Homo sapiens: one gene and its partners. The protein of the gene in region 3 interacts with the protein of the main gene of each other region in a pairwise test. Each region holds a gene or a part of one and is shown on either strand. Other genes may lie near its edges.

What was found. Proteins that work in one complex are often made in the same cells at the same time.
Region 1: the proteins of SLC18A3 (region 3) and PEDS1-UBE2V1 interact in a two-hybrid assay, tested with the Homo sapiens proteins (one large-scale study listed by BioGRID).
Region 2: the proteins of SLC18A3 (region 3) and SEC14L1 interact in a two-hybrid assay, tested with the Homo sapiens proteins (one study listed by BioGRID).

Annotation. Positions count from the first base shown.
Region 1 is NC_000020.11:50,094,724-50,098,223, forward strand, and holds part of PEDS1-UBE2V1 (TMEM189-UBE2V1 fusion protein), read right to left. Parts: intron 2,098-3,500; coding exon 1,949-2,097; exon of another isoform or gene 1,763-1,948; coding exon of another isoform or gene 1,760-1,762; intron 1,548-1,759; coding exon of another isoform or gene 1,524-1,547; exon of another isoform or gene 692-1,523; intron 1-691. Other genes in the region: UBE2V1 (ubiquitin-conjugating enzyme E2 variant 1), read right to left, coding at 1,949-2,097.
Region 2 is NC_000017.11:77,206,969-77,210,468, forward strand, and holds part of SEC14L1 (SEC14-like protein 1), read left to right. Parts: intron 1-2,373; coding exon 2,374-2,508; intron 2,509-3,500.
Region 3 is NC_000010.11:49,608,924-49,613,109, forward strand, and holds SLC18A3 (vesicular acetylcholine transporter), read left to right. Parts: upstream 1-1,386; 5' UTR 1,387-1,817; coding exon 1,818-3,416; 3' UTR 3,417-3,797; downstream 3,798-4,186. UniProt on the Homo sapiens protein: Electrogenic antiporter that exchanges one cholinergic neurotransmitter, acetylcholine or choline, with two intravesicular protons across the membrane of synaptic vesicles.

The DNA of each region.
Region 1 (3,500 bases), on a different chromosome or scaffold from region 3:
TGGGGGATGTGGGAGGGAGAATGGGGGGTGCCTACCGATGGGTATGGGTTCCTTTTTGAGGTGATGAAAACGTTCTGAAATTAGTGACGGATGCACAACTCTGAATGTAAGACCACCGAACTGTATATTTAAAAGGGTGAATTCTATCCCAATAAAGCTGTTACCAAAAACAAATACATGGAGGACTCCTGGCATACCGTAGCTACGCATTACAACTTCCAAAGCCTCTTTTGGAAAGAGATAAACTGAAATTCAGGGTAGCCCAAGCTGTTTTAGGCAGACAGAATATTTTCAGCAGAATTTACTGATGCATTGTTTTGTGTGTTTTTTTGAAAGTGTACAATTCAGTGGTATTTAGTGTATCGCAATGTTGTACATTGGTTCAATTCTCAGTATTTTAGAACCTGTAAATCAGTAAGTTGATTAACAAATCTACTGAGTACCCCATTCTGAGTCATTTCTAGGTATTCTGGGAAGTAAGGAGGGAAGCACAGTTCTCATCCTCAAGAAACCGAAATCATTCTTAGGAAGAGAAGACATGCAGTGAAGAAGATGTCAGCATATGATGGACCTTCAGAGACAGCAAAGAAAATTATCTCCATGGAGAAACAGGATTTCTAGATTGGGTTTTCCCCGGTATTTAGCAGACGCAGAAAATTCTGGTTTTCACAGGAAAAAAAGGATAAAGAAATGAGTAAAAACAGATCAAATGTATATATTTTTAAAACTCCACAAAACTATAGGGTCACAAAATGACTTAAGAAGCAACATTAAATGGCAAAGCCAATCATTCACCATGAGTGTTGATGACCATCTGAAATGAGCATTAGTGTCCTAACACTTAACGAACATGTCACTTGTCCCTGTTCCAGCCCGGGCCACGCCCTACATGTCTTTCTGCTCTCACAGTGCTAGTGCAGAGTCCTGCACACAATCAAAAGAATGAATGTTGTCATCATCCTTAAACACAAGCAGACACAGGACAGGTCTTGCTACATTCAGGCAGAGGCCCTTACTGCTTGTCTGAAGTGTGTGTCACAGTATGGAAATCAATTTCTTGACTCCTACATCAAGTTACTACTTGATTAGTATCTTCTATAATGGTAACAGATGAAAACTCAAAATGTAAACAAAAGGGAGACACCACAGCACAGTGGTTAAGAGCACAGGCTCTGGAGTCAGATCTGGTTTGGGGGTTACCAGCTATGTGACTTTGGGCAAGAGATCTGACTCCTCTGAGTCTGTCTCCTCATCTGTGAAATGGAATGCAATTGCACCTAACAATGGGGTCTTGTGAGAGTTAAGAGACATTTCTTGAGGGTTTACTATGTGTCCTCAAAAAACGGTTGGCTGGCATTATGAAGACTGGGAACTCTCACAAATCAGGAAGGTCTGAAAGAGGCCACTTTTCCCCATCCTCATTGTCTTCGTCTTCTTTGCAAAGGCCTCTGGGTCTAGTAGTGCCTGGAATAGACCAGGAGCTGACAGGCTTGCCAGGGACCTTTGCTGAATGGCCCAAGGAACTAGGATACAGGTGCACGGCAGACCTGGGAGACAGTGAAGAAAAACCACAACTGGGAAGGCTTTCCAGAGTTAATTTGGAGACTGGCTTCAGGAATGCTGGCTATACCTAGGGCCTAGTTATTTGGTTAGCCCAGAGATTGTTCTGAACGACATCTGATGGTGCAATGACTTCACACCTCACTGTCTACATTGTCATATAAATTCACACTATGAGTCTAAACAGGTTTTTGCTTACCATTTAGAGGGGTTAAACAGCATCAGAGGAGGTTCAAATATATAAACTGAAACTGGTCAAAAAAGAATAGCCACATTTCAGAAAATATACCATTGGTGAGCTTTTTTTCCGTGATAAGGCTAATATTTTTTAAAAGGAGGCACAGTGAATTTAAGACATTGACATTTATAGCCGTAGCTCGACGCTTACTCTTGGAGGCCCAATTATCATCCCTGTCCATCTTGTAAGTGTCATGTCTTCGTCATCTTCTAGACCCCAGCTAACTGTGCCATCTCCTACTCCTTTCTGGCCTTCTTCGAGTTCTTCCAACAGTCGGAAATTGCGAGGGACTTTTACTCCTAAAATAAATGGAAAGAAATTCAAGATACCAGCAACTCCAGGGGAACTTGTAAGCCTAGAGCTAGCTGCTCATTATCTCTCCCTGGGAATCAAGATGCTAACATGCAAAAAAATCACGGAAAGTTATCACACCTCAAACTTGCTACTTATAAAGCTATCAGTATCAACCAGCACAACCAGAGGGAAGGGGCACATGGTTCTCTGACAGGTGAAGTGACTAGGGCTAGATAACCAAACTTAGAAAGATACCCCACCCCTACCCCTTGGACAAACCTCCTAAGGGGCTTACATGTCTAAATGTCTATGAATTGGGGTCAACTAGTATGAGATGAAAACCATCAATATCAGGTGCTAACAAAAGTACCTTGGAAGACAAGAGGCTAAGACTACGCTTATTTGTTGGCATGACTCTCAAACAACCTTTAGGAGGAATAGTCACCATGGATATGGGAAATAAAAATGGTATCCTCTTAATCAACTAAGAGTCAACTGAAGGCACCAAGGATAAAATATTCTATTGTTTTTCAATTATTTAAGTGATAGTTTCTCTTTTAACTTACAAAAAAGCTAAAAGGGAATAGCTGGTTCTCAATTGTTTTCCAAAAATCCCAAAGCCTGGCAAGTAGCTCTTGAAAGCAACGCATGAAAACACCTCACAGGTTCAAGCCACAGTACCGGGTTCAGGCTGAGGCTTGAGCCATTTCTAGGTGTCTTCCAGAACAGAACCTAGGTACTGGGGCCAGACAAGGGAGGGGGCTATGGGAGGAGAGAGAGATGGACTTTCCTTCTGTGCTTGGGGAACAAATCATCTCTCCTAGGGTTGCACTCCCAACCAATCCTGACTGTCTCTCCTTCCTCCATTTTCCCTGGCATATGCACTATTTTCTCTGGAAAAAACTCAGGATCCAGTCAAGTTTCAAGTTCTCTGCCTTGAATGCTGAGCTCTCAATTGGCCAGACTCTCAGAGACAAACAGGACTAACCATGTGACTGTGAAGAGAGGCTCACTGGAGGGACCCCAGATTGTGGGAGGTGTTGCCAGTATATGTATTTCCCAAAGTGTAGGACACACGCCATTAATTCAATTGGAATAAATATTTGAGTACTTAGTATACATCGGGGACTTTTCTAAGCACTGAAGAACAAGCAGTGAATAAAACAAAAATGCCTGCAGCTTACATTCTAGTAGAAGACATATAATGGACAAAAATGAATATGTAAATTATACAGTATGACAGATCCTGGTGTTCCGGAGGAGGGAGTAATACGGGAGGGGCTATACTTTTAAATGGAGGGATAAAGGAAAAGTGTTATTGCAATCAGGTGTCATAACTAAAGACCTAAAGAAGGTGAGAGGGCATGATTTATGGATAGCTGAGGAGAAAGTCTTTGAGACAGAGCAA
Region 2 (3,500 bases), on a different chromosome or scaffold from region 3:
TTGTTTTTGTTTTGTTTCTTTTGGCCGCCATTTCTCTGATCCAGGGTTAAGCTAAAGAGAACCATTGAAGTAATTGTTGATACTGTACATTTCTTCATTGTTAAATACGAATGAGAATTCGTAGAATCAAATACGATTGCAGCTTGCTTTGATTCACACGGCTTTGTGTGAATCAGATCTTTAAACAATTTTAGAGGAGCTGTCATATTTTCTAAAATACTGTTAAAAAATTGAATCAGTTCTCAAAATTTCCCACCCGCCCCTCCCCGTCCTTTTTTTTATGGAGACAGGGTCCGGCTCTGTCACCCAGGCTGGAGTGCAGTGGTGCGATCACAGCTCAGCAGCCTGACTTGGTGGGCTCAGGTGATCCTCCCACCTCAGCCACCCAAGTAGCTGGGACTGTAGGCGTGCACCACCATACCCAGCGAATTTTTTGTAGAGGCAGAGTCTCACTATTTTGCCCCAGACTGGATGACATTTTTGGTTTTTTTTTTTCTTCTTGAGATGGAGTCTTGCTCTGTTGCACAGGCTGGAGTGCAGTGGTGCAATCTCAGCTCACTGCAGCCTCCGCCTCCCAGATTCAAGCGATTCTTCAGTCTCAGCCTCTGGAGTAACTGGGATTACAGGCATGCGCCACTACCCACAGCTAATTGTTTTATTTTTAGTAGAGATGGGGTTTCACCATGTCAGCCAGGCTGGTCTCAAACTCCTGACCTCAAGTAATCCGCCCACCTCGGCCTTCCAAAGTGCCGGGATTACAGGCATGAGCCACCATGCCTGGCCTGGATAACATTTTTAAAGTAAAAAAACGAAGGGAAGTGGTTCTCAACATACGTTTGGGGTTTTTAATATACTGAGTTGCTGGGTAATGAAGCAGAGGCCTCCACTTCTATATCCTGTACTCAGAGAAGCTCAGAACCTTGGGGTCCTTATAGGCTTCTAGCCCATGGTGCACAGTTGTGTCTTGGGAGCATTACGGAAGCCAGAGCCTCTAGAAGTCCCAGTGACTTGTTCCATGGCACACGGCGGTGGCTGAACTCAGCAGGGAGTGAAGCTCCTTTTCAGAAGGGCTCTCTAGTCATCCTTCATATGAAAAGTTACCCGTTTGGAATGTGTACCCACTGGGTTTGACTCAGGTATTTAGCTAATGAATTGGACATTCAGGGGACTTTGGACTTTCTGAATGGTTAGAGAAATTTAGAAAACAAATGAATTTAGCTTTCACTTCATCAGTTCCACTTTAAGGAAATTACAGGCATCATCACAGTACAATGCAAAGAGCAAGTAAGTTACAGTAAAGGTTATAGGACCAGAATTTAGCAAGCGCCTATGAGGTTAAACCGCAGGCTCAGGTTCGTAGAAACCTCTGAACTCCTTTCATGATATGAGCTAGCCATCCCGTGTTGTTGCTGCTTCCAATTATGACACGAAGAATTGAGCTGGAGCCCAAGGAGACCTGCCTCACCGCGTTGTGCCTGTTTGTCACATGCCGACCTCCGTAGTGTGTTTGCGGTGCTGAGCGTCTTTGTGGTTAATTGAACTGTCCAAAAACTTGGGCCTTCTAAGGCTTCTTCACCTCTCTCCTGAGCTGCTGTTGAGGCTGATTGTTGAAAGGAGGTTGTTCCCTCCTGCTCTCTGGTGGCCGGAGGTTACTAACCAGCGGGCAGTCTGGTATTTTTCCACCACGACATCACTGCTTTGACACTTATGCTGTACTGCAGGCTGAAGACTGAAATGTTTATTTTCTATGTAGTTGCTTCCCAAGGCTAATAGAACGAGGACTTCGATTTTATGAACTTTAGTGTGGAGTCATTGTGTCAAGGTCAATTAGGAGATTTATGTTATGTACAAGTTCTAATTCAACTTGTTTCAGGCAAATTCAAAAGAAGTTCTTCATTAGTTTTTGGCTGGTGTTATAGACCAGTCATTTGACTTTAGACAGAAAACATTATTCATTGATTCTGTATCTTCACTATAATTCCCTATCATAAAAATAATGCCTGTGGCTATTGAGAGCAAAACTCTTTTCTTAAAGTAATACTTTTCCTTTACAGGGCAATATAAATACCCCTAATGCTTATATGAGTCAGCTTTAGTAACTGGGTGCAGTGCCTCACGCATTTTAGTAGGAATTCTGTGGTACATCAGCTTCAACTTGTTCCCGTTTATGCAGAGTAAAACACATGTATTTAAGTGGTTTTTAAAAACATATTGCTCAGTAGTGCAGAGTGTTTTACGACCCTGCCAGTGTTTTCCATTTTCTCAGCAACCTCCAGAAGTTGAGTGCAGGGGGATAGTGCTGGCCGGTGTGTCTGGGTTTCGTGGGGTTGGTTTGTGTTTGCACAGGTTTCACTGCTGTGTTTCTTCTTCCAGTGCGAAGTGCCAGAGGGTGGACTGGTCCCCAAATCTCTGTACCGGACTGCAGAGGAGCTGGAGAACGAAGACCTGAAGCTCTGGACTGAGACCATCTACCAGTCTGCAAGCGTCTTCAAAGGAGCCCCACATGAGGTACGTCCTCCGCCTTCCTGCACCTGGGCCGGCCCTTCCTCCGCAGAGGGCCTGGCCCTCGCAGGGCTTCCTGGCAGCCTTTCATTCAGAACAGTCCACTCGTTTTTCTGCTCTTTGTCTTTAGGCTTTTGTTGACACTCGATATTTAGTTTCAGTAAATGTCAACGTCGAAGAATGGGTCTCTCTCAGAATAGAAACTAGCTGTGCTTGATCAGAGTGCCTGGAAAGGAAATTGGATCTCTTGACCTCCATTTTACTAAAGCCACCAAACACAGAGATAGGAATAGCTAATCTTTCCTTGTTGGAGCACTTAACTCCTGAATTTAGTTTATTTCATGGTTATATTGAACAAGTTTCATGTGCTACTTTTTCTTTTTTTTTTTCTAGACAGAGTTTTGCTCTGTTGCCCAGGCTGGAGTACACTGGCATGATCTCAACTCACTGCAACCTCCGCCTTATGGGTTCAAGCAATTCTCCTGCCTCAGCCTCCCAAGTAGCTGGGATTACAGGCACCCGCCACCACGCCTGGCTAATTTTTGTATTTTTAGTAAAGGTGGGGTTTCACCATGTTGGCCAGGCTGGTCTCGAACACCTGACCTCAGGTGATCCACCTGCCTTGGCCTCCCAAAGTGCTGGGATTACAGGTGTGAGCCACTGTACCTGGCCCGTTTGCTACTTTTTCTTGGCTGGGTTTTGGTTATTTATAGATATCTTGGGGATTTTCCGATTTCTGTAAGTCTAATGGAGCAAGGAGGGTGTTCCTGTATTCCTTTTTTGCTGTCACTTTTGGTAGAGAAGCAAGGGCGTTCCGTGTTCCTGTGCATGCCATATGTCTGTCCTGTAGCATCACGAGTGACCTGAAGCAGGAGGGGCCTGCAGCGGAATCTCCCTTCTCAGCTAGGACAAGGTTCGTGGCCCAGAGTTGTTGGAGAGGATGGTGGCACTCTGTGCAGAGCAGGTGTCAGTGAGGATGTGGTGCTGGCTTGGGCAAT
Region 3 (4,186 bases):
TGCTGCTTTACTTTTGAGGCCAGAAAAATGGGAAGGCTCCCCTCTGACTCTGGAAGAGAGACGCAAACCGTAATCTCAACAACACAATCCCCACCTCCAACCTCAGCCGCCCTGGAGCCTCTCTCCCGCCAGTCCGCCCACTGGAACACGGGTTCCATGTGCCATCCAGGGTCAACGCCGCTCTGGGGACGCGTCAGGCCCAGCGCACAGCCTGGGCAGCTCAGCCTGTCAGCTGAGCACGGGCGCCTCAAGGGGTGCGGCCCTCTCAGAAGGAAGGTGAGTCTCCCTGGAGCCCCTGACGACAGCGAAGCGGCTGGGCGCTCTCCGGGGAGTGGGCGCGGCACCCAAGAAGGGTTTCTTACAGTTCCAAGAGAGGACCCCAGCCACAGTCACTCCAGAGCCCACCCGGGGCTTGGAGGAGGCTCTGGAAAATGAGGGATGGGGGAGTGTGCAGAACAGGGGGCGGAGGCTGGCAGGAGCCGAGGGAGGGCTTGGTCGGGTGCGAAGAGTGCCTGGGAGGAGTTAGAGTGGGGAGGGGGTGCGGCGGCGGGGAGAGAAGAGGCGGAGCTGGGGGACCAGACCGCTAAAGGAGAAAGGGGGATTCCAGGCAAGGGGAATGTGGCCAGGCAGTGCGGGAGGGCGGCAGCGGCCAGGCTAATATTCGCGACCCCGACTGGGGCGCGGCAACTTCTGCCCTCAGTCCCCACAAGCTCCCGGCCGCGATTCGCGGCCGAGAAATTCTGCGGAGGGGCCGGTGGGTCAGAGCCAGGCCAGGCAGTTGCTGAGCCTTCCCCTCCCCTCCTGGCGGGAGTGTGTGTGCAAGGGGCCAGGGGGCGGAGTCGGAGAAAGGGTTGGGGGTGTCCGTGTCCAGCGCTCCTCCGGACGCGGCTCCACAATCCAGCTGCGAGAACAGATGGACGCAGCGGCGGCTCACCTCGGGGGCTTCCTGCTCGCTGTGCGCCGAGGTCCAGGCTGAAGCGGAGATCGCAAGCCTCTGGCTCCCGCCTCTCCCAAGGGGCCTCGAGGAACCGGCTGCCGCGCCCCCTTCCCCAAGAGGAGAAGAGCGGGCGCTGACCCCGCGAGTCCTAGAACCGCGGGCGGGGGGCAGGCAGGGGGCGGGGGGCAGAGGGCCAGCTACCGGCGCGGAACGCCCATCCCAGGGGCTGGTTCAAGACTTCCACACCGAGAGCCCTTCCTGGGCCTCCAGCCCTGGAGCATCTGGAGAGCGGACCCCTGCCCGGCCACGCCCCGCCCCCGGCCCCCGCCCCGCCGACGTCGCATTAGCATGAGCGACGTAAGTGGCCCGGGCACCACTCGGGGGCTGGGACTCGCCGCGTCACAGCCCCGAGTGGAAGGGAAAAAAAAAGAGGAGGCGGCGGAGGAGGCAAGAGCCGACGCGAGGGGAGGGGAGCGCAGCGGCGGGGCTAACGGGCGGGCAAGCGGGCGGGCGGCAACAGCATGTCCCTCGGCCAGCGCGGGCGGCCTCTTAGCGCGGCGGGGGCTGCTCTGGGCGCGCCCCGGGCGAAGTGCGCCCAGTCTCCGGCCCCGGCCCCTCGGCGCGCCCGACTTCCCGGCCGCCCCTGAGCCCAGCAGCCGCGGGTCCCGGGATCGGCTAAGAGTAGCTGCAACGCCTCGCCGGACGGAGTCCTTTCCTTTCCCGGGACGCTGGGCCATGAGCTCCGCGGCCACCTGAGGCACAGGGGAGTCTGCTCGGCCAGGACAGCCTCCCCGAAGTCCCGTGCCCTCGCCTCTGCACTGCGGGACGCCAGCGCTCGGCCCTGGCGGAGGCGTCCTCGGAAGAGCATCGGGGTGGGGGCATGGAATCCGCGGAACCTGCGGGCCAGGCCCGGGCGGCGGCCACCAAGCTGTCGGAGGCTGTGGGCGCGGCGCTGCAGGAGCCCCGGCGGCAGAGGCGCCTGGTGCTTGTTATCGTGTGCGTGGCGCTGTTACTGGACAACATGCTGTACATGGTCATCGTGCCCATAGTGCCCGACTACATCGCCCACATGCGCGGGGGCGGCGAGGGCCCCACCCGGACTCCCGAGGTGTGGGAGCCCACCCTGCCGCTGCCCACTCCGGCCAATGCCAGCGCCTACACGGCCAACACCTCGGCGTCCCCGACAGCTGCGTGGCCAGCGGGCTCAGCCCTTCGGCCCCGCTACCCTACGGAGAGCGAAGACGTGAAGATCGGGGTGCTGTTTGCTTCCAAGGCTATCCTGCAGCTGCTAGTGAACCCCTTGAGCGGGCCCTTCATCGACCGCATGAGCTACGACGTGCCGCTGCTGATCGGCCTGGGCGTCATGTTCGCCTCTACAGTCCTGTTCGCCTTCGCCGAGGACTACGCCACGCTGTTCGCGGCGCGCAGCCTGCAGGGCCTGGGCTCAGCCTTCGCCGACACGTCTGGCATAGCCATGATCGCCGATAAGTACCCGGAGGAGCCGGAGCGCAGTCGTGCACTGGGCGTGGCGCTGGCCTTCATTAGCTTCGGAAGCCTAGTGGCCCCGCCCTTCGGGGGCATCCTCTATGAGTTCGCCGGCAAGCGCGTGCCCTTCTTGGTGCTAGCTGCCGTGTCGCTCTTTGACGCGCTGTTGCTGCTGGCAGTGGCCAAACCCTTCTCGGCGGCTGCACGGGCTCGGGCCAACCTGCCAGTGGGCACTCCCATCCACCGCCTCATGCTAGACCCCTACATTGCCGTGGTGGCCGGCGCGCTCACCACCTGTAACATTCCCCTCGCCTTCCTCGAACCCACCATTGCCACGTGGATGAAGCATACGATGGCGGCTTCCGAGTGGGAGATGGGCATGGCCTGGCTGCCGGCCTTCGTGCCTCATGTGCTGGGCGTCTACCTCACCGTGCGCCTGGCGGCGCGCTACCCACACCTGCAGTGGCTGTACGGCGCGCTTGGGCTGGCTGTGATCGGCGCCAGCTCGTGCATCGTGCCCGCCTGCCGCTCCTTCGCGCCGCTAGTGGTCTCACTATGCGGCCTCTGTTTTGGCATAGCCCTAGTCGACACAGCACTGCTGCCCACGCTCGCCTTCCTGGTGGACGTGCGCCATGTCTCAGTCTATGGCAGCGTCTACGCCATCGCCGACATCTCCTATTCGGTGGCCTACGCGCTCGGGCCCATAGTGGCAGGCCACATTGTGCACTCGCTGGGCTTTGAGCAGCTCAGCCTTGGCATGGGACTGGCCAACCTGCTCTATGCTCCCGTCTTGCTGCTGCTCCGCAACGTGGGCCTCCTGACGCGCTCCCGTTCCGAGCGCGATGTGCTGCTTGATGAGCCACCGCAAGGTCTGTACGATGCGGTGCGCCTGCGTGAGCGTCCTGTGTCTGGCCAGGACGGCGAGCCTCGCAGCCCGCCTGGCCCTTTTGATGCGTGCGAGGACGACTACAACTACTACTACACCCGCAGCTAGCATCCCCACTCCTCCTCCAGCCCACCCAACCGCCTTGGGTCAAGGGGGCTGCTCTGCAAGCCCACTGGCCAGCTCTGGCTCAGGGCCCACCTCCTCCAGCGAGTACCCCAGCCACTCCTCAACCTTGACTTCTGCCCAAATCCCCTCCCTGTGACCCGTTCCATATCCCTTTCTCTCTTGTCCAATGGGGCTTGGAGCACCGAGGCCAGCGAAGCCATCGCGCTCCTTGCGGAGGTGAAGAGGACCCTGAGTCCCCACCTGCGGCTCCCCTGTGTAGAGCCTGCATCTGTCTGTCCTTCCTTCCATTGCTCCCAGTGCCAAACTTGGGCCGCTGCACCGCGGCGCCTCCGCCCAAATCAATAAACTGTGTCTGTCCCAGGAGGCCGAGTCTCTTTACTGGTGGGGGGTGCGTGGAGGCGCGCAGGGCCAGAGCAGAGGGGAGGGTGAACTGGGTCTCCAAGTCCCAATCCAGACCTAAGCCAAACTAACACGTAGGCACCTGTAGCTGTTTTTCTACCTGGAAAAGGGGATAGGAAGGAAGCAAACCCAACAAAGGCTGTCACCCACGGTCACCAAGGAGCACCATGCTCCCCTCAGCCCAGGATAGACCCTCTTTTCCAGGCCTAGCGCAGAGCCCGGGGATGCCGCCCGGGGGAGCCTGAGGACCCGCTCCAGCTAGGCACGCCAGGCCCCGCCCTTTGAGGACACGCCCCACACCAGCCTCAGAGCTCTGAGGTGCCTGGGCTGAGCTTCCCTTCAGACCAGAATCC